Linked DNA regions of Homo sapiens. The protein of the gene in region 6 purifies or fractionates together with the protein of the main gene of each other region. This does not show direct contact. Each region holds a gene or a part of one and is shown on either strand. Other genes may lie near its edges. The genes, in order: STK38, PPT1, NFIL3, SETX, KSR2, NIPBL and MED13L.

Region 1 (3,500 bases), on a different chromosome or scaffold from region 6:
TTCATTCTGATGAACTTAGGAAAACTCAAGTTATTTTTAAAACACCTATCAAATTGGCTCATGATGCTTCTCTTCCAAAGCAGGATAGCTGTTTATGGCCGACGTAGTAGAAATGGTTGTCTTTGTTTACAGTTTTTCAGATGCATTATGGAAGAAAATCCTCTTACTACCACATTTCAGGAGACTTTACTATGACATATTGGTGGGTTCCATCAACTTCTTGGAAGCTCTTCAAGAGTGTGAGAGGAAAAGCATGATGTTATACAAAGAACTCTGCTCCACATAGGATTCCGTGGCAAGAGTACTATTTTGCTGCTTTCATGTAGGAAGGTATTGCCCCCCTTGCAGTCAGGCCCTCAAAGCGCTTGTACGTGTAATTGATGAAGACCCAGTCTTTGTTCTTGTAGTCAGTCTCAGGATGATTACTTGTGGCCACTGGGAAAGAAATAGATGTGAGAGTTGATTCACTGCCTTGCCTCCAATGGACTGCTCACGGTGCTGAAGACAGGACTATGAAGAACACACCAGTTTCTATTTGGGAAAGCTTATTTTTCACTCTATGAATTTTTTTTTTTTTTTTTTTTGAGACAGAGTCTTGCTCTGTCGCCAGGCTGGAGTGCAGTGGCGTCATCTCAGCTCACTGCAACCTTGCCTCCCGGGTTCAAACAATCCTTCTGCCTCAGCCTCCCCAGTAGCTGGGACTACAGGCGTGTGCCACCATACCCAGCTGATTTTTGTATTTTTAGTAGAGATGGAGTTTCACCATGTTGGCCAGGATGGTCTCGATCTCTTGACCTTGTGATCTGCCCACCTCGGCCTCCCAAAGTGCTGGGGTTTCAGGCATGAGCCACCGCGCCTGGCCTCACTCTATGAATTTTCCACATTTTCTTGCTCATGTTCTTTAAATCTCATATTTCTTCACAAATTTTTTAATGTTTTATTTTCCCATTCCTGTCATTTCAGATTACCTAACACTTAGTAAATAACAAAAGAACAGATTTTTGTGACTTACTCACCCAGTTGAGCAGTCTAAACATGGGAGCTGATACTCATTTTCCATTCACCAAGGTTTCACCACTACCCAGCATTAGAATTAGAAAAGTACTTACAAAGAACCTGAAGAAATGAAATTCCTCTCCATGTTCACTACCCTGATTTGTAAACATCATCCCAAAATTGGGGGTAAATAATGTGCTTATAAGGCAGCAGGAGACAATGCTGGTGGTGTTACCTGTTGGCTTAAGAATATCAGATTCTGGAAACTCATCGAAGTTTGAGGTATCATCAATGCTTTTGATTTCAATAGATATTGCAGCAGGTCTCTCTCTGCCAAGAATACACATGCCAAAAATTACTAAGTTAGTAATCAAATGGATCATACCAATCAAGTCTTTCTCCAAAAAAGACCCCTGGTCTGACATGAGAAGACTCTTCACTGGCAGGCAGCATTTATTTTCTCTGAAAAACTTATAAACACTGACCAACCAAGCCAACTGACTGTACCCAAAGTAAATTATGATTTTAAAAAAATAACTCAATCATTCATAGCTAGAAAGAAAGATAAGAATAACTAAAACGTGAAGTTAGTGCAACTCCCCCCATGGCCTGGCCTGTCTACTAAAAAGGGAAACTGAACCTCTAAATGTCCCCTTGTGTAGGGCTCTGCCCTTCTTCCACTGGAGGTGCCAAGTAGGATGGCTAGAAAAGTGGCAAAGGTAAAAAATCACAAGCAGCAAATCAGTACACAATTATAAAATAAATGAAAACTTCACCTTCTATTTAATAACCAATGAATGCTGAATGAGAAGGTCTGGACTACAGCAGGTGGTCTAGGCTCTCACGGCTATTGGCCGTAGTCTACTACCCCCACCATAACAATTTTCACTCTCCCTTTCCCTCTCCACTTCCACCCCTCCAATCTTTCCTCCACTCCTTTCTCCCTTCTCTATGTTCCAGTGATACCTTCCACCCTGTGGGCAGGAACAGTCCCGCTGGCGGGACCTAAGAGGTTGCTGAGTTCTAGGTAAAGGGTAATACGCTTCCTAGATGCTCCCTCCACCTCAAAAAACAAAGTTCACTTCACTTTGTAAATAACTGCTAGATTCAATATATTCCATGACACACGGCTGACAAAAAATCTAATGCCCAATCTTCACCATGAATGAAAATCAGGAAAAGACCCTAAATCTCTAAGAAGCTCTCTTCCCTTACTTGGCTTGCCAATGATGGTCCTTCCAAATTATTATTAAGTAAACTAGAGACTTTCTGAAATAATTCTGAAAGTGTTTATATGGATATACCTGATATGTTCCCAGTCAACGCCTTCAAAAAAAGAGTTACTTTTTATTTCCTCAACTCCAGGAGCTCCAATTCTATGTTCCCATTCACAGCAGAACCTGGAAAAGACAGAGGCCTTTCAGCACATCTCAAGCAGTCTCCTCAGAAAAAGAAAAACTTTCTTTTTTTTTTTTTTTTTTTGAGACAGCATCTCACTCTGTCACCCAGGCTGGAGTGCAGTAGCACAATCATGGCTCACTGCAGCCTCAACTTCCTGGGCTCAAGGGATCCTCCCATCTCAGCCTCCCAAGTGGCTGGGACCACAGGTTCCACCACACCCAGCCAATTTTTTCTTTTTAGAGGTGGGGTTTTGCTGTGTTGTCCAGGCTGGTCTCAAACTCCTGGGCTCAAGTGATCCCCCTGCCTCAGCCTCCCAAAGTGCTGGAATTATAGGCGTAAGCCACCATGCACAGCCTTTTTATTTGTTTAAAGAGAGGAATAGGAGGAAACAGAAAGCAGATTCAGGAGATAACAAAAGTTTTTAAAAAAATGGAATCATTCATATTAAAAAGCTGAGAAAGAAGGTGGAGGGATGTTCTCTAATACCTCAAAATTAGATCCTTGGCTTTCTCAGAGATGGGAACTTCTGGAGGAAAAGTCAAAGTTTCTTTCCAGTTCATCACCTTCTTATATGTCTCTTGAGGGGTCTCAGAACAGAAAGGTGGGTAGCCTGTAATAAAAAAGGAACTTCGGAGCTTTTACACTCCAGAACTTTGAATCTGACCGAGATTACTCTCCTTAATAAAATTCTATGTCTTTTTTTTTCTTTTTTCTTTTTTTTTTTTTTTTGAGACAGGGTCTCACTCTGTTACCTAGGCTGGGGTGCAGTGGCACAATCATGGTTCACTGCAGCCTTGAATTCCTGGGCTCAAGTGATCTTCCTGCCTCAGCCTTCCCAGTAGGTGGGACTACAGAAGAGCACCACCACACCCAGCTGATTTTTTATTTTTCTTTTGTAAAGACAGAGTCTTGCTATGTTGATCAGGCTTATTTTGAACTCCTGGGTTTAAGAGATACTACCACCTCGACCTCCCAAAGTGCTGGGATTACAGGCATAAGCCACTGTGCCCGGCCTGATTCTGTATGTCTTTAATGACTACTGGATTACTCTGTATGGCCATCCCTCCATGACACAGACAGGATTTCCACTTATCCCAGAAAAT
Region 2 (3,500 bases), on a different chromosome or scaffold from region 6:
AAGGGCTCCAGCACCAAAGAACATAGCAGCTTCAGGAACTGGGAGCTGAAAAAACACCAACCTCCCAAGATAGACTCCCTGCCAGTTACCTGTGTGTACAGGGAGGTCTCCTGTAAGGGAATGGTTTCCTTGGCTTGGCCACTTCTGTAAAATCCAAACCACTGCAGAAGAAGCAAAGGAAAGAAGCTCAGATATGACACACAGCACATACTGCCAAAATAATTTGAGACTGGTTAGAAGCTAAAACTGCCAACAAAGTGAACATCATAAAGCTGTAGGAAGAAGGAAAAATGGATAGGGTGCGTCTGAGTCATCTCTTCTTAAGGGTGGAGCCCGAGGGATGAGTTAATCTTTCTGAGAGGCCGCTTTCCACTTCCCCAGAATTTCTGCTTCCTAAAATTATTAAGCAATAAATGTGAAAAATTCCTGTGCTGAGCTCTAGACATTCAAGGATGAATACATAATCTGTTTCCAAAAAGCTCCCAGTCTTGCAAGGCACGGAAACAATTCACTGTTGAGTACAGAGGTCAGCAAACGTTTTTGTAAAGGCCAGATACAAAATATTTTAGGCTTTAAGGGCCATATGGTTGTAACTACTCATTGCTGCCACTGTAACAAATGCAGCCACAGACAGTATGTAAAAAGTAACTAAAACTGTTCCAATAAGGACACTGAAATTTAAATTTTACATAATCTTTATATGTCCAAATACTTGATATGTCTAAATAAATTTTACATAATCTTTATATGTCCAATTCTTTCCCCCAACCATTAAAAAATGTTAAAAACATTCTTTTATGTTAGTGTTTGGTGTTACTCGTGGGTAGCACCAAAACGGGTAGCAGGATGGACTGGGCCTGTGGGCCACAATCGGCCAATCCCTGGTGGTGTGACATAACGTGATGAGTGTTTTAACAGAGGCTGATGATTCTAAAAAAGCGATCACATTCTGCTTGGAATGGGGATGGCATCCTTGCCTTGACAGACGAATAGAAATTGTCAGGTGGAGAAGCCAAGGAAGGGCATTCTAGAGACAGAAATATATGAACCAAGGCATACGAGAGAAAAAGCACAAGTAGTACAATATGGCTTGATCAAGAGTGTATGAAGCGTGCAGACAAGGCAGATTAGGCTGGAAAATGGGGTGAAGCCAGATCAAGGCAGACCTTGGAGGCCAAGCTTAGGAATTTATATATTTTGGGCTAGTGATTCTGAACATTTTTTGGGTCTCTGATCTCTGGAAAATGGATTAAAATTATAGATCCTTCCCCAGAGAATGTAATTACATAATTTTGCATAGAATTTTGGGGTTGGGGGATTGATTACAATCTTCAGTGTCCCATTTATGGACCTCAGGTGAAGAACTGTTTTATACAAAAGTTGGTGGAAGGGACTGAAGGTTTTTTCCCCAGCAGGCAGCTGTATTTTTTCATTTCATTTCAATTTCATTTTATGTTCTTTTTGAGACAGAGTCTCGCTCTGTCACCCAGGCTGGGGTGCAGTGGCACGATCTTGGCTCACTGCAAGCTCTGCCTCCTGGGTTCAAGTAATTCTCCTGCCTCAGCTTCCCAAGCAGCTGGGATTACAGATGGCTGTCACCATACCCGGCTAATTTCTTTTTGTATTTTGAGTAGCGATGGGGTTTCACCAAGTTGGCCAGGCTGGTCTTGAACTCCTGACCTCAGGTGATCCACCCGCCTTGGCCTCCCAGAGTGCTGGGATTACAGGCATGAGCCACCGTGCCCGGCCAGCAGCCCTATTTTAATGCCATTTACTCTCCTGGCATGTGGCCTAAGTAGTGTCTCACCTCCGAATCTACAGGGTCCACAATGGAATCATTGAGGAATTTCACCATCACAAACTTCTTCAGGGCCATCAGGTTTTTCTTGTAGGACTCATTGATACCCTGAAAGAAAGGCCAGCAACACCTAAGGTCATTACCATCAGACACCAGCAGAGGGAGTAAAGCCTTCCTGTTTTCTGGTCTCCCTGACCCTGTGCCACTGTGTTTCTTCCCCATGGGTATGGGCTGTTTTCCAGCTTCCTGACCAGGATATACCTGTACAGCTTTTTTTTTTCTTTTTTTCTAAAAAACAAAATATTTTATTTTAGATTCAGGGGGGTACATGTGTAGTTTTGTTATAAGGGTATATTGTGTGATGCTGAGGTTTGGGGTTCTGTTGATCCTTTCACCCAGATAGTGAACACAGTGCCCAACAGGAAGTTTTTCAGCCCTAGCCTCTCCCTCCCAGCTTTTGGAGTCTCCAGTGTCTATTGTTCCCATCTTTATATTCACGTGTACCCAATGTTTAGCTCCCACTTATAAGTGAGAACATGTGATATTTGGTCTTCTGTTTCTGTGTTCATTTGCTTAGGATAACGGCCTCCAGCTGCATCCATGTTGCTGCAAAGAACAGGATTTCATTCTTTTTTATGACTGTGTAATATTCCATGGTGTATATGTACCACATTTTCTCTATCCAGTCTACCGCTGATGGGCACCTAGGTTGATTTCATGTCTTTGCTATGGTGAACAGTGCTGCAATAAACACGAGTGCAAGTGTCTTTTTGGCAGGACAATTTGTTTTCCTTTGGGTATATACCCAGTCACGGGATTGCTTACACAGCCTTTTCTTTTCCTTTTTTTTTTTTTTTTTTTTTTGAGATGGAGTCTCGCTCTGTCACCGAGGCCAGAGTGCAGTGGCACCATCTCAGCTCACTGTAACCTCTGCCTCCCAGGTTCAAGCGATTCTCCTGCCTCAGCCTCCAGAGTAGCTGGGATTACAGGTGATCGCCACCACATCCAGCTAATTTTGTATTTTTAGTAGAGACAGGGTTTCACTATGCTGGCCAGGCTGGTCTCGAACTCCTGACCTCAAGTGATCTGCCCACCTCGGCCTCCCAAAGTGCTGGGATTACAGGCGTGAGCCACCACGCCCGGCCTTCTATAGGCTTTTCTTACCATCCTATCTGACTGACATGCCACTGAGCATGGCATACAGGTACAACTATGAGTTTACACCACACTCCATAGGTGTCCATCACATAGGTGAGAGGCTTCTAGTCAGAGAAAGCCAAGACAAAATAAGAAACTGCAAATTCTGGGTCGTTCTGCTATATACTATTCTGTGTTGTTTTTTGTTTGGTTTGTTTTTCCCTTCAAACTGTTTCAAAACAAAAAACCAAAAGACTCTCCAGATGAGTCAAATATAAACTGAGCCATCTAGTTTACCAGAACCTACCAAACCATGTTTGTGTCTGGGACATACTCAGTGCCTACTGTATCTCTCTTTTAGGTAAATCTCTAGAGAAAAATCCACCCCCAGACTGATCCATCAGGAAAGCTTCCCTCATTAAGACAGCAGCTGTGAATTTCCACCTCGCCCAGTCAGCAACCTGCCGAGCTTATCCTGTGTGTTTCAACACTAGGAGAGGGAAAGAACTTAAGGGAAGAAAGGCAAATGAATTTCAACCTCCCTAAAGGGAACTGAATCTCAAAG
Region 3 (3,500 bases), on a different chromosome or scaffold from region 6:
TGCAGACTATTATTCTGGTTATTTTCTCCACCTGAGAATCTTTCTCTTCCATGTGTTATCTTATTTGTTCCTTCTTAAAAAAAAAAATCAGATTCCTTTATTTTGCCTCACTTACTAGATTTACAGTAATGCTTTTGAAATGCCCCGCCATTCTGTCTGCCTTAGTTACTCTTCCTAAACTTCTAGGACCTTTTCAAGGTTGGGGCCCAATTGGGAAGGAGCCTTCACAATAGGTCCTATTTCTATTTAACTGAAATAGCCCCATTTGTCTTAAAATTTCCTTAACTCATGTCTTCTAGGTGTCTAAGTACTATATGACTACTTTATCATCTCTACAACTTTGTTGGTACATTAACCTACAGAAAACTTCATTTGCTTTTTTGTTTTTGAGACAGAGTTTCACTCTTGTTGCCCAGGCTGGAGTGCAATGGTACGATCTTGGCTCACCGCAACCTCTGCCTACAGGGTCCAAGCAATTCTCCTGCCTCAGCCTCCCAAGTAGCTGGGATTACAGGCATGTGCCACTAAGCCCAGCTACTTTTGTATTTTTAGTAGAGATGGGGTTTCTCCATGTTAGTAGAGATGGGGTTTAGTAGAGATGGGGAAACTCCATGGGGTTTCTCCATGGGGAGTTCAGGCTGGTCTTGAACTCCCGACCTCAGGTGATCTGCCTACCTTGGCCTCCCAAAGTGCTGGGATTACAGGCGTGAGCCACCTCGCCAGGCCACCTCATTTGTTTTTAATCATCTTCTTCCTATTTGAATTTCATGGCATGTCACTATAAATCTGTGATTCTGCTCTCATCTGTATGTATTACATTCATGGTCTCTACAACTCAATGGCAAATCACCACACTATCTTAGGATATTTTCTGTAATATTATCTATCAAATAATCTTGCAGTGTTGAAAAGAGTTTATCAGCATTATGGGATGATACGGAGACAGGCACAATCATATACACTGTGTGTGTTTCCACGTGTTTGTCTTTTGTGCCCAACTACACTGCGAATTACTTCAGGGCGGAAATTAAAATATACTTGTCTTCTAGCAAAAACCTGAAGATATTAGGTGCTCAACATTTCATTGACAGTCACCCATATACCTTATATAAGAGAGTTTTGTAAACAGAAAACTTTTTTGATGCTTTCTTTTTAATGTTATGTGAATTGTAAAGAAGATATTTTACTTATTAACAGAGAGATTCTCTTATTCATTAATTTGTTTATTCAACACATATGGAGCACCTACTGTGTACTGGGCACAAGGGGAGACTAGGGGCACATAAAGAGGGAGAGAAAAACCAAACTCCCGAGACCAGGCGCTCAGTCGTGGGTGGGTGGGAGACAAACAGGTGAGCAGAGGGGAACCAGGTGTGAGTGCAGAGTTGCACAAACATGGGCCTGGGGTGCAGGCTTTCTTCTTGTCATGGAGATAATAACAAAAACAATCATAATTGGTGCCATTTATTGAACACTTACCACAGAATGGGCACTGGGAGCCTGACCTGCTTTCTTTCATTCACTTTTGGTGACAATTTTCAGATAAGAAAACTAAGGCTCAGAGAAGTCAAGTGACTTGCCCAGTGTCACATAGCTAAATGGCAGAGCGTACATTCAGGCCCAGTTCCTTTACTCTCTCCTACACTTTCACAGGTGGTTCTGCATCTTTGCAATGCAGTCTCATTTACACACAGTTCTCTTTTGTGTCACTTTCATTTCTGAGTAATACATACCCTTTTACTAAGTTACTTTGGGCGCAGTAAGGCACTATGCTAACTTAACTACTTCTTCTTTTTTTTTTTTTTTCTTTTTGAGAAGGAGTTTTGCTCTTGTTGCCCAGGCTGGAGTGCAATGGCGCGATCTTGGCTCACCACAACTTCCACCTCCTGGGTTCAAGCGATTCTCCTGCCTCAGCCTCCCAAGTAGCTGGGATTACAGGCATGCGCCACCATGCCCAACTAATTTTGTATTTTTAGTAGAGACGGGGTTTCTCCATGTTGGTCAGGCTGGTCTTGAACTCCCGATCTCAGGTGATCCGCCTGCCACAGCCTCCCAAAGTGCTGGGATTACAGGCGTGAGCCGTCACGCCTGGCTCCTTAACTTCTCTTAGATGCTGTCTTAACTTCTTTAGCCAGCAAAGATACTATCTAGAACTTTTCTCCATCCTCCTTAGATGTTTCAGATCTGGCACTATTTATGAATTGAGAAAACATTTTATTAATTTTCATATCTTTACTAAAATTTTAACCTCCTGGCTATTCTAATTATGTTAAATAGAGAAAAAGAAATATGATAGCTGTGGACATTGTCACCTATGATCTTCTTCTTTTTTTTTTTTTTTTAACAAATCCAAGAGTGTAATCTGTTTTCAACATGAGGCGGGGGACAGTGTCTCTCTGACCCTCTCATTTTGCAGATTAATCAGCTAGAAGACAGGCTGACCTTCCCAAGACCACACAGCAGTTGGGCACAGATGGGCTCTGAGCTCTCCTTATGCCCCTCAACAATGAACTTAAAGCAAATGCAAAAGTAGTTTACGATGCCTTCAAAAAGCCTCAGGATTTATGCTAACCTAACAAATTTATTTCAAGCCTCAATATTTTCCCTTATGATTAATTTAACAATTACTTCATCTATGCATCATCTTTTCAAATCAACATCTAATGTTGTGGTATATTAGTCATTGCTTAAGTTTCTTTTTTGGTGAATAATTGACACTACATGCCAATTCTATGATGTTAGTGTATTCAGCACGATTAACTTCATTACACACATTAGATGATATGACTCTCCTTGAAAACACAAATAAAAAAGAGAAATTTAAGAGCAGGTATTATTACCTACCAGTTGACATATTTTTCCATACATACTCCGAAGGTGCCATCACTAATTAATGCTTTTGTATAGTCCATCACACTACTTCTCTAAGCAAGAATTATATAGCAAGAATTATATTTCATAAGCCCAGATTTTTAAAGTTTAAGTCAGATTACCCTATTGTTTTTAATTAAGTACAAGATTTGATTTAGAAAATTCTATAAAAGAATATAACCTCATAACAATAATTCTAGACCAAATTTATCCTTGAGGAGTTATCTCATTAGTTATGTTTATGATAGACCTTTATCTTCCCTGGTCTCTCCCAGAACTAATGTTTAACAATCCAAGCTCCACAAAAGAAAAGAATAAACATGCTTTGTTTCAATCATCTGAAATCTTACTAATAGTCTAAACATTAAAATCTACTCTGAGAACATTTTGTTATTAATTATCTATAAAGGGTAAGTTTTATTGCAAATTGCAATATATATTTTGTTTTTAAAATTCTGTCAATAGAAGATGAAATACTATTTGATATGCCCAATGATTTGGAAACATTATAGAATTATCTTATTTTCCCTCTACTCTCTGAATGTATTGTTTTCTCCCTGTTATATAATACAGATAACAGTAAAGGAAAAAAAAATGTCTTCAAGGTAAACCTAAGTTATGTTAAACTG
Region 4 (3,500 bases), on a different chromosome or scaffold from region 6:
CAGCCACTACAGCAGCGGGCTGCTGTATATGGCTCAGGTCCTGGTGAACGACAGGGAAGCCCGGCTCGCCCGTAGGAGGTGTTGCTCCAGGATGCTGGGGGCTCGAGGGTTGTGGATCCCAAAGGAATATTCCTCCTTTGACCTCAATGCCCATCCTCTTCAGCAGTCGTGGGTCCTGAAGTTGGTCATGAACAGGAGGTCTTTCAGGGTCCTTTGAAGTAACAGTAAGAGTAATTTCCTTGGAGTCAGAGGGTGTGTGGTATAGAGAAGCAGCAACAGATGTCTTGGCAAATCCACTGTCTAGCTTGCTGCTGGGCAAACCACCCTGGGGTCTGGACCCCTCTGGGGCTATGGTAGGAGGGTGAGTGAGACTTCTCTGCAGCACAGGCTTGAGTTTCAGAATCTTCACTGCATCATGTCTATAGTTTTTGTCACAGGTCTTAATAATGGCACCACGCTTCTGAGCATCCTGAATCAGCTGATTCCAATGCTGGTTTTCCTTGAAACAATGAGAAGGGAGAAATAATTACACCCCAAAGAGACACTGCTTGGGAAGCATAGAGTTCCAGCTTTCATTTCTGAACAAATAATACATATTATTGTATGAACATATTCTCAAGATTCATTACTCGTCAGACAAGGATGAAAGGAAAAAATAAATTCAAATAAAAAATGATAAAGTCCCATTCCTAAAAATAAGACCTGGTCACAACCTATAATGGAGAACTTCAACTTTTGTTTTTTTTTTTTTTTTTTTTGAGACAGAGACTCACTCTGTTGCCAGGCTGGAGTGCAGTGGCGCGATCTTGGCTCACTGCAACCTCCACCTCCCGGGTTCACGCCATTCTCCTGCCTCAACCTCCCGAGTAGCTGGGACTACAGGCACCCGCCACCACGCCCGGCTAATTTTTTGTATTTTTAGTAGAGACGGGGTTTCATCATGTTAGCCAAGATGGTCTCGATCTCCTGACCTCATGATCCGCCCGCCTCAGCTCCCAAAGTGCTGGGATTACAGGCAGGAGCCACCGTGCCTGGCCGAACTTCAGCCATTTTTATCAGTGCATTCAACTGCAACGCAGGTCTGCACTAGTCACTAGGAGCATCATGTTGCTATTTATATTTCAATAAATTAAAATAAAAAATTCTGTTCCTAAATTGCATCAGCCACATTTCAAGTACACAGCGGTCACACACGACTAATGGCTATTGTACTGAGCAGTGCAGACACAAAACATTTCCGTTATCACAGAAAGGTCCTTTGGACATTGGTGATCTAGAGTACTGCCTACACCTCTTGGCAGGGCTAACGTTCTGAAACAGGAAGGTCTGGTTTCAGAAAGCAAACTTCTGAGTGCATGTGACTATTCTAGAAAAAGGCCCAAGGCTTTCACTGGATTTCTAAAGGCCTCCCAAACCCCGAATGGCTAAAACATCTTCATCCACCGAGATCTCAAGATATCATCTCACTTTCTGCCTGTTTCCTACAGGAGCTTAAGATATTAAATCCCATCGGGAAAGTTGCCAAACACATGCACCTCTCCTCTCTTCCCGAGTTTCTTCAGAGGAGGCTGCTGCTTTACAACCACTAGAATTCGGGTCTCTTTAGAAAGAAGAAAGAAAAGAAGAAAAAGGATAGCTACCCTCTCATGGGGGCTCCTGTACTGTTCATAAAGGTATGTTAGGGAAGCAGTGAGGCTGCACAGTATTTACTTGCTGTGTGACCTTGGTCAAGTCACTTGACCTCTCTGAGCCTGTTTCCTCATCTGTAAAATAGGAGTAATATTTTATTTAATGGATTCTAAAGTGCACGTTGCTTTCACATTTTAGCATTTCTGACCTTGGGGAGCCTCTTGGCCATGTACCTATCCTTGGAAATTACATGATGAGGCAATTATAACCCTTAGACTTTTAGTCAATAAACCATTTAAAAATAATGCCTGAAAACCTTCTACAGACATTTTCTGATAAGACAAGATAACACCAGCATTAAAACTTATGCACTGGGCCAGGTGCAGTGGCTCATGCCTGTAATCCTAACACTTTGGGAGGCTGAGGCGGGCGGATCACCTGAGGTCAGAGGTTCAAGACGAGCCTGGGCAACATGGTGAAACCCCGTCTCTACTAAAAATACAAAAATTAGCCAAGTGTAGTGGTGCACAGCTATAATCCCAGGTACTTGAGATGCTAAGGCATGAGAATCGCCTGAACCCAGGAGGCGGACGTTGCAGTGAGCTGAGATTGTGCCACTGCACTCCAGCCTGGGCAACAAGGTGAGGCTCTGTCTCAAAAAAAAACCCCCAAAAAAACCTTATACACTGGAGATAAAGGGTTCTAAGAAATCCTGGAGACAATGGTGTAACTCTTAGCAAATGCTAAATTGCCAACCTTATTATTGCACTTGGGATGAATGACAACACTGATGACTATGGATTGGGAAGTGATTCATTCGTGCTAAATTCTGAAAGTGAAATATTTTTAGGAATATCTTAACCTATTATTTTACTTGTATTTTCTATGTATGGATAAGAATATGGTAAAAATCTGTCTAAAGTCTTAAGAGTCCTTTCAATAAATATGAAAGTTCTAAGTGAAAATAAGGCACTGTGTCATAGTCTAATAATGGTACATAAAATAGTGGTGTATATTATAATGAATGGTTTCTTGAATTTGATGAACTATGGTAATAAGCTGACTTCACAGTAGTTTTTCAAGGTTTGGAGAAAGTCATGTGACCAGAATAAAATGCTTGGCCCGGTGGCTGGCATACTGAAGACAGGTCTGTGGAGGGAGCGCCAGGCTCTGGGGGCTCAGTTCTCTTTCTCACTCAGATCTCTAGAGATCCTTAGCCTGTGGCTCAAACACATATGTGAAGCAGATGGCCTTGCAATTTTTGCTAAGTTCACTACACCTAAACTTGGTGTTTAATCCATTCCTAAGATCACAGAAACAGTTCTGAGCAGGCACTATTAGCCTTGGTTTCTCAGAGGAAATCAAACGCTTTAATGATTGATCCCATTCCCATAAGGGGAACTAGGCTAAAAACTTAGAAACAAAAGCAAATGAATCCCCAAAACAACAAAGAAAAAGCCCAAGGACAAAAAAAGTTAGGAAGCCCAGCTGACATGTCGGGAAGTTTCAGATTCTCGTCTGTCTCTTTTTGTAGCACTGCCTTCCTAGAGTGAAGACAATGTCGGTGCCATTAGCTGGAGGTCAGTGGTCTGCACAGTTGTGCAAGTGTGACCCAGGGGCTCCCAAACACTGTCTAAACGGAATGTGAAAAAGGGTTACAGAATAACCTTGCAAACCCTACTTCCCATGTCCTCCTTGGGCTGCCCTGCCTCCTGCACCCCACCCTTCACAATCATGATGCGCCTCATCCATCCAGAGTGCACTGCCAAGACACATCAACACCATGAGGTGCCAACTTAAGGGAGGATGAAAAACAGTAGTGCCCACAAAGCCTCCTTTAATCAAGGCATCACTAAAAGATGTATCTCTAG
Region 5 (3,500 bases), on a different chromosome or scaffold from region 6:
ATTGCAGGAAGTGGCTGACTCCACAGAGTCAATCCACTTGCTGGAGGGGGTCCTGGTGAAAGAGTCTGAAAGACCACAAGAACTAAAAGAAGGAGAAAGAAAGGTCAACCACAAAGTGGCATTCGCCATGGTATTAACCAATTATTCATAGCACAGCCTGGGAAAGTGGAATGAACCTGCACGATGACAGCTGACATGCTGAGAACTTGATGCCCTGGGGGAGACTTGGCTGGGACAATGCAGCTGGAGTCCCTCCTCATGCCCAAAACCAAAACAGGCCACCCTCCTCTCTGCATCAAGGCGTGATTCCAGCAGCCAGGGCTATTCAAGTATTTCCTTCTGCAAAGAGTTGTCATCACTCCGCGCACATTTAAGCAGATCGCAAGCAGCTATTGACTCTGTTTTTCGCTGGTACCTCTGGACTGTCAGTTAATAACCTGGAGTTCATCTTGCACAAATTGTAGAATTGGTTTATGTGAAGCAGAGAAATGATCTCGAGCTAGATGTCAGCACCATATCCCCCGGCAAGTTGCTGCTCCTTTGATTTCAGAGATGTACCATGTAAGTCTTTAACAAAGTCCATAAGACCAGTCAGAAAAGATGAAGCAGTTAGGGGACCCAGAAGAAAAACTAAGTAGGCACAAAGGTGAGTTAGGAAACTGGTCAAATCCTAGCAAGCCCCAGGCTTCCATCGCAACCAAAGAAGTTAAGGAGGTGACTTTGTGACATCACTTTTTTCTTCTTTAGACAGAGTCTCCCTCTGTTGCCCAGGCTGGGGTGCAGTGGCACAATCCCACCTCACTGAACCTCCACCTCCTGGGTTCAAGCAATTCTCCTGCCTCAGCCTCCCAAGTAGCTGCGATTACAGTTGTGTGCCACCACGCCTGACTAATGTTTGTATTTTTAATATAGACGGGGTTTCACCAGGTTGGCTAGGCTGGTCTCCAACTCCTGACCTCAGGTGATCCTCCTACCTTGCCCTCCCAAAGTGCTGGGATTACAGGCATGAGCCACTGCGCCTGGCCAAGGTGACTTCACTTCTGCTGCACAAGCAATAAACCACCTGAAAAGAGGGTCTGTTTCCTAAGGATGCTATGCACAAAGATGTTCATTGCAGCATTATTTACAACAATGAAATATGGGAAGCAATGTAAAATCCAGCAATAGGAAAATGGTTAAGAAAATTATTCTACATCAATATGTCATTTTACACCCATTAAAAACAATATCAGACAGGTGCAGTGGCTCATGCCTGTAATCCCAGCACTTTGGGAGGCTGAGGTGGAATGATCACTTGCACCTAGGAGTTTGAGACCCACCTAGGCAACATGGTGAATCCCTGTCTCTACAAAAATAAAAAATTAAAAAAAAAATACAAAAATTAGTTGGGTGTGGTGGCACACACCTGTAATCCCAGCTACTCGGGAGGCTGAGCTGGGAGGATCATTTGAGCCCAGGAGGCTGAGGCTGCAGTGAACCGTGATTGCACCACTGCATTGCAGCCTGGGTGACAGAGTGAGACTCTGTCTCAAAACAAACAAACAAAAAACAAAAACCAACAATGTCTATGGAGAGGCTAAAATAATATTCATAAAATGTGATGTTTGGCATAAAGATAACAAAGCAGGATGGTAGCTGCTTGCATATATTGTGGGTCATAACTATGTAAAATATAAATGGAAAGAACACACATAGAAGTTTTAACAGTGGTGAGATCATGAGTGATTATTTTGCCTTTCCCTTTTTAAAGAATAGCCCACATTTTCCAAAATTAGCTTATATTATTTTTATAATAATATAAACCAGAGGTTAGCAAATTTCTTTCTGCAAAGGGTCATAGAGTAAATATTTTTGGCTTTGCAAGCCATACAGATTATGTTACAACTACTCGATTCTGCTGCTGCATGGAGAAAGCAACCATGCACAATACATTGTAAACAAATAGGCATGGCTGTGTTCCAATAAAACTTTAAATAAAAACAAGCAGGAGGTTGGATCTGTCCCATGGGCTATAGTTTGCTGATTCCATAAACCTCAATGAGACTTTTGAAAGTTATTCCATGTTCAGTGACATGGAATAATTGCCCTTTCATTAAGTACTAGCTATCACCCGGGGAAAGTTTTCTTCCTAATCACAGGGAGGTTATGGGTCCTTAGGAAACGGTCCAGCCCCTGGAAATTGCATTTGACAGGCAGGGTCAGAGACACAAGGCATAGCTGCTCGTGAGGAACAGCATTGCCTCTCTCTCCATCTCTCTGTCTGAGCTGTCACGCCCTTTCTCTTTGCCTAAGTTATTCCCTATGTCTCTCTGACCCCCTTGTACATCTCCCTCTGCCCCCAACTCCATCAGTTCCAGGAAGAGAAGGAAAGAAGATAGGGAACCTGAGTGGATTGTAGGGCCAGGGCTGGGAAGCTTGGGAAAGGGGGAAGATGTCTCTGTCTCACTTACATTGGATTCGAGGTCACCGGATGCAGGATGACCTGGGGCGCCCGGGTCGGCGTCTCCGGCACCGGCACCACATCTGAAAACCAGAGATTGAACACTCAGAAAAAAAATGTGAAGTCCACAACCCCCGCAAAGGCCTGATTCCTGGGCGACATGGCAGCCAATTTTTCACCAGATCTTGGATCTCTGCCCTTGGCCAATCTCCTTTCTCCTTTCCTGGACCACCTGGACTCTACCTGCTCAGCTGGACCAGGGTTCTGGATGACATCCTCAACAAAATTCCTCATTGTTGAATAGGGGGCTGCCAGAACCCTCAAATATCTAGCCTGAAGCATTCATTGGTCATCTCTGAATCTTTCTTTCTCCTGGGTTCCCTTTGGGATGATAAAGCCCCTTGGTTTCACATCCTCTCAGTACCCAGCTCAGGACCCTATGACCATCTCTTTCCTGCCACATGGCTCTAGACCCCTCCTCACCCTCGCCCAGTGTTCTACAGCACTCCACCCTCTCAGGCCTTTCCACGGTGCCTTGGGACCTCCTTGGGTCCCACTGTGCCCACTCTTTCTTCTCCACTTCCATGTTCAGCCATTATCCTGGAGTGTGGTGACTCCACTACCCTCTTTGATCTTAGGCACCCCCACAACATCTGCCTCCATTCATCCCAGAAACTCCTGCAATGCAGCGGGGCTTGTTCAGAAGGGGCTGCTTCCAGCTCACATGAAACTCACCTGGGAAGATGAACTGCTGCTTGTATTTGTAGTAGTGGGATGCTTGCAAAAGAAAGAAAACATCAAAGTGAGTGTCCCCAGGGAGACATCGCTTCAGGGACCAGATTGAGCTCTTACAGCCACCACATGGTCATTCTCTGCCCACCTTCAAGAGTTTCCATACTTCTGCAGACATCCCTGCAGACAAGGGACTGCAAACATGTGTAAAGAAACCAGAACTCTAAACATCCATGCCGACCCTCCCATCTGACATCTCACACTCCCTAAAATCAGACTGCTCCAACTCAAACAGACATTCTGACTACAATACCATTTTTGTGAAATG
Region 6 (3,500 bases):
GTATATACATCTGCATTAAAAGTATACTATCAGAAACGCATTTTGGTGCTAAAAACATATTCATAGGCAATATTATTGCATGTGAAAAACCCAGGTGAAATAATATACCAATTACTAACTAAAAGCTATATTCACTTCTGGATGTTCTTTAAGGAGTTTTAAAAGACTCTTTGTTAGAACAGAGTTTAGAAAGCAAGGCTAGGGTAAGCTGAGAGGGGAGGGAGAGAAAGATGGTCCAGATCAAAGGAACAAGAGGGTACCACTTTCCATCTTTCACCTGACTCTTCTAAAATTGTATAGCCATACTCTTTAGTTTATAAATATAAGCTACTCCCAAACTTTCACTAAAAAATTTTAAAGAAAATTTTTACCTAAAAGAAAACAATTGTGGTGTTAACCCCCACATTCTACAACCTCTTTTATATTAACAAGTAACTCTGAAAAGATGCATTCAAGTTAAATAAAAAAGCCTACTTATTAATTAAGGCTGATGTCTTAACTGACTTTTGGTAAGTCTAATTGCCATAATTTAAAATTTAAAAGCTTCACTCAAAGAACACAAATATTAGCGACTCAGAAGGCAATCTTTTTTCATTATTGTAAGACAAAAGGAAATAAATTAACAGTGAAAAAATGAATGTTGACGAAGACCAAGCAAGAATAACAACAGATTAGCCACAAGTCATTCTTTGAATAAAGAGTTCTTTATAATATGTTTTCAAAGAGCTTTCTTGGTAGACAAGCTACAACAGCATGTTATGAAAAACAATAACCACACACTTTTTGTATCTCCTAATACACTGCAGTGCTATACAACTTTGTGATGATGCAAATGTTCTGTTTTGTCCAATATGGTAGCCAACAGCCACATGTGACTACTAATGAAATGAACTTCCAATTTTAGTTAACTTAAATTTAAATAGCCAAAAAAGGCAATGGTTACCCTCTTGGCCAATGCAATTCCAGATTTCATATACTTGGTTATATATAAGTATAAATCTAAATTCTTAATAATTCTCTTTCACAGAAGGAAAACTTAAATAAACTCTCAGTTCTATTGCCTTCACTACACCTCAGTATATTTAGACTGTATGGACACGGTGGCTCACGCCTGTAATCCCAGCACTTTGGGAGGCTGAGAGGAGAGGATCACTTGAGGCCAGGAGTTCGAAACCAGCCTGGTCAACAAAGCAAGACCCCATCTCTATTTAAAAATAAAAAAAGTTATTTTAAATACTTGTGTACAAAGGGATACAGAAGTATATCTTCTGCACAAATGGCCATTATCTTTTGGCACTTAAGACATTCTTCTCCCTTTGGAAATAATTTTACTCAAGTAACCAGAGAATTCAGAAACCATGCAAAAATAACACCAGTCCCCCGCCTCCCACAAACTTACAATTTAACCAAATTTAAAAAGTAAGTACCATTCCCTATTACCTTTGCATAAACAAGGACAAAAAGATATGTTTTAAAAATATAAAACATATTTAACTAACCATCTCCCCAACAAAATGAAAAATAACCTTTTATATAACTTTCTAAACTATACAAATTATTCATCAATAATTGGCTCAGACACAGGTCTGTAAGAATGTAGTATTGTAAGACATTTTTAAATAGAGAGTTTTTAAAGACAGCTATTTTAATACAACATTCACTTAAGCATATTTCAGAAATATAAGAAATAACTAAACAGCAAAATAACTTATCTCTGTGTAACCAAATAGCAGTAACATTCATAACTACCTTGAGTAGTGGGTGGGAAGAAAAAAACTGTGGGGAAAAAAAAATTCACTGGAAACTTTTTATCTATACTCCTGAAAAAAATTTCCTGTTGTTTGACATAAATGTTATATTTTCATGTAGTAGCTTTCTAATTTTTGTAAATTTCCTTTTTAAAACTTAGTAATCTTAACACTTAAAATCGATTATATTATAAATGACATCAGTAGAAGTATTCTTACCTTTATTTGACTTTGATGGTTTATTCTTGATAGGTTTAAGGGAACTTCTTGATTTGTCCTCTCTATCTTTAATAAGTTTCTGAACATCATCCAAAGACAGTTTTTGTAGCACAACTACAGGCTTAGCTCCTTTATTTAGATCTTCAACTAATCCTATTTTTTCTACTTTGTCTTTCGGCTCTCCTTTCATTTCCATTTTCTTTGTCTCCTGAGTAACATTGCCATCTTTATCCCTCTTGATTTTCGGAATGACAAAATTTTTCAACGCACCAGACCTGCCCCCCAACAAATAACTTGGAAATTCTGCCTTATTGTCAGGGTGTGCTTTATTAGTGTCTACTTTACTCTTGTTACCCTCTGTCCTTTTGTCATCTTTACTAGTTGGTGATTTAAAACCAAGTTTATCAGATCTTGATTTATTAGAATCTCCTTGTTTAACACGAGGACTGTCAGGTCTTGATTTTTGTTCCCCAGAAGATGGTCTTTCCCTTGAGTCCCCTGATTCATGCCTGTGTTTTCGTTCTAGTTTATCAGTTTTTGAACTATCAGATTTAATGCCATGTTCATTTCTACTAGAGGATCTCAATGTTTCTGGTCTTCGAACCCTAGACTGATCCCCTCGATGTCGCTCTGATTCACCCCTGTCATCTGATTTTTGTTTATTATCATGGTCACGTCTTAGTGACTCAGAAACAGATCGCCCATCAGGTCTCTGCTTTAAGGCTTCAGCTCGTTCTGATTTTAACCGAGGTGAGTCAGATTTAGTATCTTGTTTATGTTTAGACACTTCAGGTTTTTTCTCTGTAGATGGCTTTCCAGAATCCCTCCTATTGTCATGCCTGTGTTTTGGTGTTTCAGGTCGCCCTTCATTTTTTTGCTTTGGAGTTTCAGGGCGGCTCTCACCTTTTTGCTTTGGAGTTTCAGGCCTTCCATCACCCTTCTGTTTTGGGGTTTCAGGATGCCCATCACTCTTTTGTTTTGGAGTCTCAGGCCGGCTTTCACCCTTTTGCTTTGGGGTTTCAGGCCTTGATTTTGTTGTTTCTGATCTGCCATTATTTTGTTTGTTGTCATTTGGTTTTGTGTCAGACAGTCTATTTTCATTTTGTTTAGGCTCAACTATGGTGCTCTCGTTTTGTTTGCATTCAGTTGTTCTGCTCTCATTCTGTTTAAGTTCTTCTGTTTGGGTCTCAACTTTAGTTTCTAACTTATTTTCACTTGATTTTGTCTCCACCAATCGGTTTTCATTTGGTTTAGATTCTGCTAATCTACTTTCACTTTGTTTCATTTCACTCTTTGAAAGCTCAGGATCAGACTTTTTTTTAGGTGTCTCAGGATGGTTTTCTGGTGTAGATTTAAGACTTCCAACAATATCTTCCTGAAGAACAGAAACAGGTGCATCATTACATTGTTTGATTTCTTCAGGCTTTTTTATGGAGTCTGAATCCTGAGTTATAGAAGCCTGAGAGTCCACTCTTCCTGCCTGATGAAGATCAATGCTAACCATTAATGCTGGCCTTGACCCATTTCCCGTAG
Region 7 (3,500 bases), on a different chromosome or scaffold from region 6:
ATTTATAGTTGCCTTTGCTTCCTGTTCAGAGCAGGCACTTCATGGTGATGAAGAGAGGTCAGATCTTGGGGGTGGATAGTTAGAAGACAGTGTCTGGAACTCTTAAAGCACCTCACATTGAAAACACTTTTTATGCTTCCTGAGATAGATTATGTATTTTTGTTTGTTTATTCGAGATGGAGTCTCGCTCTGTCACCCAGGCTGGAGTGCAGAGGCGTGATCTCAGCTCACTGCAAACTCCGCCTCCTGGGTTCATGCCATTCTCCTGCCTCAGCCTCCCAAGTAGCTGGGACTACAGGCACCCGCCAGAATGCCCGGCTAATTTTTTGTATTTTTAGTAGAGACGGGATTTCACCGTGTTAGCCAGGATGATCTCGATCTGACCTCATGATCTGCCTGCCTCAGCCTCCCAGAGTGCTGAGATTACAGGCATGAGCCACCGATTATGTGTTTTTTTAAAAATGGACTAGAACATAAATGACATAGTTGAGAAGTGCATTCCAGAAGTGTGTATTAATCAAGCCACAGGCATTCTTCATCTACCTTGAGAAAATATACAGGCCTTTTCTAATGTTTTCTAACTCTTAAATGGTTAGGAAATGATAGGAAACTATATATTATAGATTAATGTATAATTATAGTTATGGATAAAAATAAAGAACCTGATCAACATAAATTTGGCTTCCAGGCCCCCTAGAGCAGGGGTCCCCAACCCCCGTCCATGCCTTGTTAGGAACCAGGCCCCACAGCATGCGGTAAGTAGCAAGTGAGCGAGCATTACAGCCTGTGCTCCGCCTCCTGTCAGGCAATGACATTAGATTCTCATAGGGGCACAAACCCTATTGTGAACCGCACATGCAAGGGATCTAGGTTGTGTACTCTTTATGAGACTCCTAATGATTTAAGGTGGAACAGTTTCATCCTGAAACCATCCCCCACCACGTGGAAAAATTGTCTTCCACGAAACTGGTCCCTGGTGCCAAAAAAGGTTGGAGACTGCTGCCCTAGAGGAACACTGTCCAATAGAAATACAATGTGAACCTCAAATCTAATTAAAATTTTTCTGTTAGCCACATTAAAATAGTAAAAAGAAACTGGTTAATTTTAGTAATATATTTTATTTAACTCAATATACTCAAAATGTTATTTCAACATGTAACAATATAAAAATATTCATGAAATATTTTACATACTTTTCTTTTTTTCGTTTTCTTTTTCTTTTTTTTTTGGAGACGGAGTCCTGCTCTGTCACCCAGGCTGGAGTGCAGTGGCATGATCTCACTGCAACCTCCGCCCACAGGTTCAAGCAATTCTCCTGCCTCAGCCTCCCAAGTAGCTGGGATTACAGGCATGCACCACCACGCCTGACTAATTTTTGTATTTTTAATAGAGATGGGGTTTCACCATGTTGGCCACCTGGTCTTGAACTCCTGACCTCAGGTGATCCACCCCCACCTCGGCCTCCCAAAGTTGCTGGGATTCCAGGCGTGAGCCACTGCACCTGGCCCCTAAGTGTTTGGGCTCCAGTGCCTACTTTACCTGCAGTCCACGCAAGTTCCTACTGGCCTCACTGGCGGAGCTCAATGGCCATGTGTGGCTGCTGGCTACTGTACTGGATAGTCCATATCTAGAAGGAAGGAGGAACATGAGACAAAGGATGAGGGAAAGAGCCTGGGGCAAGTTAAGGAATGCCTTTGAGACCTCCTTCCTGCTAAGATCTGGAATGTATTAGAATCTGAGAACCAGCCTTCCCTCTTGAGGCTCACGCCCCTGCTCTGTGTGTTCTCTTTGGCAGGTTTGTTTTGGAGCAGTACAACGCTCTGTCCTGGCTCACGTGCAATCCGGCCACCCAGGACCGTACTTCCTGCCTTCCCGTCCACTTTGTGGTGCTCACTCAGTTGTACAATGCCATCATGAATATACTTTAATTGGAAAAGCACTTGTTCTCTCTGGCTCAGTTCCTTCTCCCTGCAACCTCAGTCCAAGGAACCTGCTACACTCTGCAAATAACCCACATCCTTTTCTTCAGACCACTCTCCACAGTCCTGCACTGTGATTCCTTCTCAGCAGGCACATGTCAATTCTGCAGTGTTCATTACCAGAGTGACTCCTTGACACTTCTCTCATGGACCTGGAAACTTCCATAAGTGGTGACTTTCAGCCAGTGCGGTGGTGTGTGTAGCCCCAACCACTGGTCCCCAGGAAGTGGTGGTGGTTGATGGCTTTTCAGCGGGAAACAGAAGAGACAGTGTCCTTTTGCACAAGAGTCTGTGTTTTCAGCCTCTGTATACAATTGAGGGCAGTCTAGCCCTTTGGATGAAATCCTCTTAGTTACTGGTGTATGGCCTGTGGGTTACCTGAACTCCATAATCTGGGACTTTTTAAAAATAAGAACCAGCTCAAGTACATGGTTTCATACTGGGGTTTCTGTCTCCCTAGTGTTCCCATCCAGATTAGCATGAGTGCTTTGGTTGACTTCAAACCTGTGTGTCAATGCAGAAGGTCTGGAGACAGCTTCATTTTGTTTATTTATTTTAATTTGTTTTGTCATATGGTTTTTGTGACTTTATTTTTTTAATTCACAAGGACCAGGTACAGTAGCTGAAACCCAATTCAGATCCACCATAGGATTCTTTGACTACATACCTCTGTCCTAGAAGCCGGAAAAGGAGTAAAAACACATTGGGGAGATCATGCCTAAAAGTAATATATTCAAAACCACCCAGCAGTAGGTTTTGTTAACAACAAACTGGATTTTAAAAGTTCTGCCATGTTAAGTGGCCAGCATTTCATGAAGGATAACATTTTTATACAGAAGGCAGTCAAGCTCAACTCAGAGCCATGGAGGCAAGTACCTTAATTAGTTTTATATAGTCACAACGGAAATATATTTTCTAGTGAATTCTTATTGGAAGCCAGGTCTCTCCTCTCATTAGATCAAAAGGGACTTATGTACATACAACAATTGAAAGTGTTTGCTCATGAAATCAGTTATAAATATGGTGAATTTTTTCTGGACCATAGGAATATTATTTCAAAGAAATATTACAACTTAACCATTAAATTAGTACTTGAAGTTGAGCCTTTGTGGTGGGACTTTTTAAAAAAATGCCTTTTTAAAGCATTAATGGCTAATTGAAGTATTTTATGACTCCTCATTCCTGGCCCAGAGGGTTGTCTTTGAAACCCTGTTTCTAACCCTTGTGTTGTGTGTTTCTGTCTGAGGACAGTGGGTGTGTACTGGCCTCCCGGGAGCCACTGTGACCAGGCCTTTGAGCTCTTGTCATCTGTGGAGAGAATCATGCAAATTTTAAAAGTTCTTCCAAGAGACTTCCATGTCCTGGTTATTAACAAAAAAGGAAAAATGTAATAATTGATATGATTTTGTAAAAGTATTTTTCTTGAAATAATCTAAAGTTTAAAACATTATATTAAAAAAAAAGTTGTGTGGTGGGAATGTGAAAGCAGAGAAATAACTTGTAAATGGATAATTTTGTTCT

The links.
Region 1: the proteins of NIPBL (region 6) and STK38 purify together in Homo sapiens (affinity purification with mass spectrometry, with the first as the bait; one large-scale study listed by BioGRID). This does not show direct contact.
Region 2: the proteins of NIPBL (region 6) and PPT1 fractionate together in Homo sapiens (co-fractionation; one large-scale study listed by BioGRID). This does not show direct contact.
Region 3: the proteins of NIPBL (region 6) and NFIL3 purify together in Homo sapiens (affinity purification with mass spectrometry, with the first as the bait; one large-scale study listed by BioGRID). This does not show direct contact.
Region 4: the proteins of NIPBL (region 6) and SETX purify together in Homo sapiens (affinity purification with mass spectrometry, with the first as the bait; one large-scale study listed by BioGRID). This does not show direct contact.
Region 5: the proteins of NIPBL (region 6) and KSR2 purify together in Homo sapiens (co-immunoprecipitation; one large-scale study listed by IntAct). This does not show direct contact.
Region 7: the proteins of NIPBL (region 6) and MED13L purify together in Homo sapiens (affinity purification with mass spectrometry, with the first as the bait; one large-scale study listed by BioGRID). This does not show direct contact.

The regions. Positions count from the first base shown.
Region 1 is NC_000006.12:36,495,480-36,498,979, forward strand, and holds part of STK38 (serine/threonine-protein kinase 38), read right to left. Parts: intron 3,008-3,500; coding exon 2,884-3,007; intron 2,397-2,883; coding exon 2,301-2,396; intron 1,327-2,300; coding exon 1,232-1,326; intron 436-1,231; coding exon 305-435; 3' UTR 1-304. UniProt on the Homo sapiens protein: Serine/threonine-protein kinase that acts as a negative regulator of MAP3K1/2 signaling. Converts MAP3K2 from its phosphorylated form to its non-phosphorylated form and inhibits autophosphorylation of MAP3K2.
Region 2 is NC_000001.11:40,076,753-40,080,252, forward strand, and holds part of PPT1 (palmitoyl-protein thioesterase 1 isoform 1 precursor), read right to left. Parts: intron 1,907-3,500; coding exon 1,808-1,906; intron 162-1,807; coding exon 90-161; intron 1-89. UniProt on the Homo sapiens protein: Has thioesterase activity against fatty acid thioesters with 14 -18 carbons, including palmitoyl-CoA, S-palmitoyl-N-acetylcysteamine, and palmitoylated proteins. In contrast to PPT2, PPT1 can hydrolyze palmitoylated proteins and palmitoylcysteine.
Region 3 is NC_000009.12:91,413,833-91,417,332, forward strand, and holds part of NFIL3 (nuclear factor interleukin-3-regulated protein), read right to left. Parts: exon of another isoform or gene 1,734-3,500; intron 1-1,733.
Region 4 is NC_000009.12:132,264,487-132,267,986, forward strand, and holds part of SETX (probable helicase senataxin), read right to left. Parts: intron 500-3,500; coding exon 1-499. UniProt on the Homo sapiens protein: Probable RNA/DNA helicase involved in diverse aspects of RNA metabolism and genomic integrity.
Region 5 is NC_000012.12:117,528,491-117,531,990, forward strand, and holds part of KSR2 (kinase suppressor of Ras 2), read right to left. Parts: intron 3,218-3,500; coding exon 3,176-3,217; intron 2,524-3,175; coding exon 2,451-2,523; intron 568-2,450; coding exon of another isoform or gene 507-567; exon of another isoform or gene 56-506; intron 1-55. UniProt on the Homo sapiens protein: Location-regulated scaffold connecting MEK to RAF. Has very low protein kinase activity and can phosphorylate MAP2K1 at several Ser and Thr residues with very low efficiency (in vitro).
Region 6 is NC_000005.10:36,984,769-36,988,268, reverse strand, and holds part of NIPBL (nipped-B-like protein), read right to left. Parts: coding exon 1,968-3,500; intron 1-1,967. UniProt on the Homo sapiens protein: Plays an important role in the loading of the cohesin complex on to DNA. Forms a heterodimeric complex (also known as cohesin loading complex) with MAU2/SCC4 which mediates the loading of the cohesin complex onto chromatin.
Region 7 is NC_000012.12:115,959,694-115,963,193, reverse strand, and holds part of MED13L (mediator of RNA polymerase II transcription subunit 13-like), read left to right. Parts: intron 1-1,795; coding exon 1,796-1,928; 3' UTR 1,929-3,500. UniProt on the Homo sapiens protein: Component of the Mediator complex, a coactivator involved in the regulated transcription of nearly all RNA polymerase II-dependent genes.